Homo sapiens: one gene and its partner. The protein of the gene in region 1 interacts with the protein of each later gene in a pairwise test. Each region holds a gene or a part of one and is shown in the gene's direction. Other genes may lie near its edges.

The links.
Region 2: the proteins of VAMP5 (region 1) and SLC14A2 interact in binary tests that used the Homo sapiens proteins (3 or more experiments, as listed by UniProt).

The regions. Positions count from the first base shown.
Region 1 is NC_000002.12:85,583,291-85,587,230, forward strand, and holds the start of VAMP5 (vesicle-associated membrane protein 5), read left to right. Parts: upstream 1-1,140; 5' UTR 1,141-1,200; coding exon 1,201-1,203; intron 1,204-3,940. UniProt on the Homo sapiens protein: May participate in trafficking events that are associated with myogenesis, such as myoblast fusion and/or GLUT4 trafficking.
Region 2 is NC_000018.10:45,681,476-45,684,188, forward strand, and holds the end of SLC14A2 (urea transporter 2), read left to right. Parts: intron 1-843; coding exon 844-1,044; 3' UTR 1,045-2,213; downstream 2,214-2,713.

The DNA.
Region 1 (3,940 bases):
CCTGGATTCAAGGTGTAAGGAACTGAAGTGAAGCTTCTGCCTTGGGACCCAGGCTGTCCAAGGTGGGGGTGAGTGTCTGTGAAACCCTCTTGGTCTGGGACTTCTGTATTCACAGAGGCTCAGCCCCAGAGAGGGAAACTTTCAATTCTGTTGGTCAAGAGAGGCCTCACTTGAGGGACCAGGCCCAGTGGCTCACACCTGTAATCCCAACACTTTGGAAACCTGAGGCAGAAGAACTGCTTGAGGCCAGGAGTTCGAGACCAGCCTGGTCAACATAGTGAGACCCTGTCTCTCTCAAAAAAAAAAAACAAACAAACAAAAAAAAAAAAACGAGGGACCTTATTTTAAGATGTCCGAGGCAGCTTGGAGTAGTGGAGAACAGGTAGCTGGTGGTTTCTCTGTAGCAGTGAGAGGACAGGATGGGTAGATTCGGCTCAGGAAGGCTCTGAAGTGGTAGTAGATACACCAGCCTCCCCCATCCTCTGACTGAGGAGCAAGTGCATGGCGGGTGCATGACAGCACAGAGCTGCACTTGCCCTCATGGTGAGGAAAGACATACAGAAAGGCTAGAGCTAGTACTTTGCCCATGTGGGGCTGCTTTCTTTTTGAATAGAGGTGAAAGTCACACAATGTACAGTTTGTTATTTTAAAGTGTACAGATCAGTGACATGTATTCAGAATGTTGTGCAACCACCACTTGTCTTTAGTTTCAAAACTTTTTGGGTGCCTGTTTTTGGTTCTGGGTGAGATGCACTCACCAGGGTGATAAAGACCCTGCCTGGCTTGTTCATGGCGTCTCCAGGACCTAGTATGGTGCCTGACCGTGGCACTCATAGGGTGTTTGTTGAGTGAATGAATGATGCCTTTTCAGCTGAACTCGAGCTAGAAGACTCCAGGGCTCACTCCACTGTGCCCATTCCACAGATCCGGCCCCGAGGTGTGCCCGTTCACCAGGCAGAGGTGTCATCCGAATTCAGGCTCCTGGGGCCCGGGAGGGTCCGACTCTACGGACCCAGGTCGCTGTGGCCCATCGCTTTCGATTTGACTTGGTTTCTGTCGCCACTCGCGGAAGGCGCGCCCCCCGCCCTCGCTCGGCGGCCCGCCCCGCCCCGCCCCTGCTCTTCCTCCGGGGCCGCTGGCACTGCGGCCGCTCCGCAGGCAGAGAAGCCGGGAGCGGGCGAGGCGGCGGCGGCAGCAGCGATGGTGAGGGCCCAGGCGGGGCCGGCCAGCCCTGCGACGGGCAGAGGGCGAGTGGCGAGGGTGGGAGAGAGGAGTCCAAAGTCCGCGGGCTGGGGCCTCCCCTGGGGCCCACGAGGGCCAGACCTGAGGCGGTGACCACTGCTGGAGCAGGACGGGGCGGACCCTCCACTCCCTGCGCGCCGCATGGGAGAGAAATGCGTGAGCCCCGTCCTGGCTGCACCGCGCAGAGCGAGCGGGACTCGGGCTCCCCATTCTCCTGAAGCAAAGCGGTTAAGAGCACCGACTTTGGAGTCGGACTCCGGGCTGGGATCCCAGCTCTGTGACCCGGGACAAGTCACTTAACCTCCCTGAGCCTCCTTTTCCGCGTCTGTGAAGTGGGGTCAGTAATACCTGCCTTGTTGGGTCCTTGCGAGGTTAAAGGAGCCACAGTGGCAGAGACCCGCCTGGCACTCAGAACCCACTGCTAAGAAGTGGTAGGAAATGTAACGACCTCGTCAGCCCTTTCCGCAGCTGTGAGGAGCCAAGCCTGGCTCAGGAGTTGGAAACTTGAGCAGATGGGGTGGCAGAGGCCATTCCAGCCCCATGGCAGGGTGTTGGAGGGCGAACTCCTCCCCTAGAGAAAGAGAAAGGGAGATGTTTACTCTGAAAGTTCCACTGAAGTTATCAGTGTATGGCACAGGCCTGACTCCCTGCTAACCTCTACCTAGTGACACATTCCTGAGTTGAGTCATCCCCACTCCTGCTGCAGATCCTGGCCTTTGTCCTCACTTGCCATCTCCAAGGCAAAGATGTCAGGAACAGCTGGTGCCAGTTTCTCCCTTTCCCTAGGGCTCCTGGGAAAATGGACTGGGCAGGAAGTAGGCTTGGTGCTTTAAGATTTTGCCTTGGAGAAACTGACAGAGGTGTGATGGATGTGGCCTGGCTAGGGGTCAATGCCTGGATGGCCTTATCTCCAGGGAACTTGGAGGCAGGAAGAGGAAGTGGGGCAGGAAGGTAGCACTGAGCTCTGAGGCCAGGCCAGGAAGCTGAGGAAGGCTCTGAGAATAGGGCAGAGCCCAGAGCCCACTTAAGGGTGTGCAGGGCAAGGGGTCAGGCAGGGGTAGGGGTGGGCTTCAGCCGGCCCTTAGCTCTTTGGGAGAAGCTCCTGAAGTGAAGGCTGAAGGCAGGATATTTTATTGGGGGAGGAGGATACTGGGAAACCTGGGGATTCTCACGGGTACATTTGAGGCAGTCTGTGGAGGAGAGGCTGGGGAGGTCGCTCCTCCACCCATCCATCTCCTAGCCTCTTCCTGTTTCTTCTTTCACTCTTGCCCCTTTAGCGCTTTCCTTCCTTCCACCCATCCCCTTTCCCTCCCTGGTCCTTCTTCCTTTCACTTTTCTTTTCTTCTCTATGACTCATTCAACCAACAAGGATTTCTTGGAAATGTCCTTCATGCCAGCATGGTGACAAGTATAGGGGACAGAGCAGGAACAAAGCAGTGATGGGAAAGATGGAAATGGAATGAATAATTACTTGAATTCATTAATCTTGTAGATGATCCTCTCTCCAAAGAATGTGTGTGTTGAGCCACAGGCCTCCCTCATATGCACACAAATTAGGTTGGTAGCATCAACCAGATTCTTTAGCCAATCAGCTAAAGTGTCTGACCTCCTTGTACCTGCATCTAATTTAGCACACGGGTTACAAATGTGGTGCCTGGAGTCTGTGTTGGTTCAACTCCCAGATCTTCTACTCACTGGCTCTGTGATCTTGGACAGGTGATTTAACACCTCTGAGCCAAAGTTTCCTATAAAACTGGGAAAAGGCCAGGCGCAGTGGCTCACACCTGTAATCCCAGCACTTTGGGAGGCCGAGGCGGGCAGATCACGAGTTCAACAGTTCAAGACCAGCCTGGCAAACATGGTGAAATCCCGTCTCTACTAAAAATATAAAAAAATAGCCGGGTGTGGTGGCACACGCCTGTAGTCCCAACTATGCGGGAGGTTGAGGCAGGAGAATCGCTTGAACCTGGGAGGCGGAGGTTGCAGTGAGCTGAGATCGCGCCATTGCACTCCAGCCTGGGTGACAGAGTAAGGCTGTCTCAGAACAAAAACAAACAAACAAACAAACAAAATAACTGGGTTAATAATATGGCCTTCAATGGGTTGTTGGGTGAGGATTAAATGAGACAGAGCAAATGAACAGCAAGCAGCATAGTGCCTACCTCAGAGTATGTGCCCATTGGATGGTGGCTGTTATTCTTGCTCAAGATGTAAAACCTCAACAGCCTGCCGTGCCAGATGAAAATAAACTAGATGCAGCCGGGCGCGGTGGCTCACGCCTGTAATCCCAGCACTTTGAGAGAGAGGCCAAGCCAGGTGGATCACGAGGTCAGGAGTTCGAGACCACCCTGGCTAACACGGTGAAACCCTGTCTCTACTAAAAATACAAAAAATTAGCTGGGCGTGGTGGCAGGCGCCTGTAGTCCCAGCTACCCTGGAGGCTGAGGCAGGAGAATGGCGTGAACCCAGGAGGCAGAGCTTGCAGTGAGTGGAGATCACGCCACTGCACTCCAGCCTGGGCGACAGAGTGAGACACCATCTCAAAAAAAAAAAGAAAGAAAATAAACTAGATGCTAGTTACCAAGTTACCAAAAGCCCATTTAAAGTTCTGAGCCACAGGTTAGAAACAATTATGTGTACTATGTGTACAAGTTTGCCATAGGGAAGAGCTTGCTTGGCTGTGCATTTTATAAAACGA
Region 2 (2,713 bases), on another chromosome or scaffold:
ATCTCAAATGAAGAGTGGAGAAGAGTACTAAAAAGCCTTAGAGCATCTCAAGAAATAAAAACAGGTCAACATCAAGAGAAAAAGAGCTGGAGATTGGAGAGCCCTTGAGAAGAAAGGCAGCTGTGCTCTGTCTCCAGCTCCATAGGACAATGATGACACATCTTTGCCTCTCTCCATCTCTCTGCTCACTTTCCCTGTGTCTCTCTGACGGGTTACTTCTACTGCACACATCCCCCAATGGCCACCCATCCCTGGTTTGTTCCCCAGTTTTTTCAGTTCCAGAACCCTGTAGACACAGTCTCTGTGCCTCTTAGTTCAACTATTCAAGAGAGGGATTCTGTTGGCAGCGGGCACTTTCACCTGCCTATAGGAAGCAGTGTTTGAGTTGGGTGCCTATCTCTAGTCCAATCAGCTATGACCAAACAGAAAACATCTTGAGCTACCAAATGGCTGCCAAAGACACTTCTCCAACAGGGGCTGATGGGAGAAGACACAGGATGACCATAGTTCCTAGAGTTAGAAGTCTAACCTGGCCAGAAACATAGCTTCTGACAAAACACAGCCTCTACAAAAGGCATATTATGTTCTGATGACTTCTACATAAGGGCATATTAGCCCAACTATTAGGGTTCCCAGTGGCTGCATTTTGAAAACTGTGCATTCACCTGTTGCAATGCAGATGAATAGCACTGGCATGATTTTATTTATATTGGTCATCAATGAAGTATCAATGCCCTCAAAGCAGTCCCTCATGTCCCCAGGGCTGTAGGTGATTGATAAGGGCTGATTAAAATGCACAGGCACCTGATGTGACCAAGGCTTATCTGTGTTCTTTCTCTCCAGTTTGGATTGCCGCCCTGCACTTGGCCCTTCTGTCTCTCAGCTCTCACCTTCCTGCTCCTGACGACCAATAACCCCGCCATCTACAAGCTCCCGCTCAGCAAAGTCACCTACCCAGAGGCCAACCGCATCTACTACCTGTCCCAGGAGAGAAACAGAAGGGCATCAATCATAACAAAGTATCAGGCCTACGATGTCTCCTAAGTTTCCCTGTCTAAAACACATCAGTGTAAATTCAGGCTTCAGCACGCCGTCCAGATCCCCAGGATAAGAGACCACTTAGCCTTCCCTTTGGTCTGTTCTGTGACTCTCTCCCCAAACACAAAGAAGCGTGTATGTAGTCACCATTCCAGAACCTCTCTTTTCTAAGATGCACAACACTTATCAAAGATATGTTTAGTTTAGACTTTATACCCTTAGCTTTCCCATAAGAGCTCCCTTTGTGGGGAACTTGCCCTCTTCTGCGAAATAAGCCTCATCCTTAAAGAGAAGTCACCGGCCGGGCACGGTGGCTCACGCCTGTAATCCCAGCACTTTGGGAGGCCGAGGCGGGTGGATCACGAGGTCAGGAGATCGAGACCATCCTGGCGAACATGGTGAGACCCCATCTCTACTAAAAATACAAAAAATTAGCCAGGCATGGTGGCGGGCACCTGTAGTCCCAGCTACTTGGGAGGCTGAGGCAGGAGAATGGCGTGAACCCGGGAGGTGGAGCTTGCAGTGAGCCAAGATCACGCCACTGCACTCCAGCCTGGGCAACGGAGTGAGACTCTGTCTCAAAAAAAAAAAAAAGGGGAAGTCACCAAGAAAGGGATAGAGGTCAGTGACATGGTCATCACACAACTCGGTCATTTAATATGGCAAAACACAATACCAAGAACTGTGCATTAGCCCGGAAGGCAAGAGGGTTGGTTCTGCCCCAGCTCTGCTGCTAATGAGCCCCTACCAGGTTGAGCAAGTCTTTCCCCACTCTCCACCTCCATTTCTTAATCAGTTTCATGACAGGGAAGGATTTGAAAGTCCTTTCCACCTCAGAAGTGTTGATTATTCTCTCTCTCCTATAATCTGATGAAATCAGCATGACAACAAGTAATTTAAGTAAAGGACAGAAGGGTTACCCAAGAAGAGGCAGGAAAATGTTAACGTTCTATAAAGTTTTATTCTTGAGTCATAGGAAAATGCTCTCCAGACGTGGGGTTAGGAACCTAAATTCACTGAAAATGCCAATGTGCTTTCCTTTACATTACAGAAATATTTCTGGAAGTGTCAGATGAAAACTGATCTTTATCAACACTCAAATCATATTATAAACAAATGTGTTTCCCTTTGTAATATTCATAATCATACTGTCATTAAACTGTTTAAGTTTGCAAGTCGGCATCAGGGTTTTCTTAAAACGGGGCTCACCTAGAGGTTCATACATTGCTCACTTGAGGGGTTTTCCATGGTCAAGCATGTGCCTGAAAAGAGACAAGGATGGGCTCAAAATCATCAGAACAGGGGTTGATTTGCTTATGGAGCGAATTACACAGAAATGACCTTGGACTTGGTTTTCTGTTTGAGTTGAAGCACAGATTGTTAATAACACATCTCACTATTTAGGGTAGAGTCTTTTAGCTTTGTGCCCCCAAATTACAAATCAAGCCAGTCTTGAGTGGCCAGTAACCCTTGTTCAGTCACTCTGGTTATAGTTTCAAGCTCCTAAGCCACAAACCTTCTTTGTGGAACTCCATGTGGCCTGACCTTCCCACGCCTTCTCCAGAGGGGAATGAACCTCTCATAGCACCATAGCAGTGCCTCCCACCACCCTCCAAGCACACATGCACTCCCAGTTTAGTGTCATGGGGATGAGGACATAAGAGGGAATGTGGGG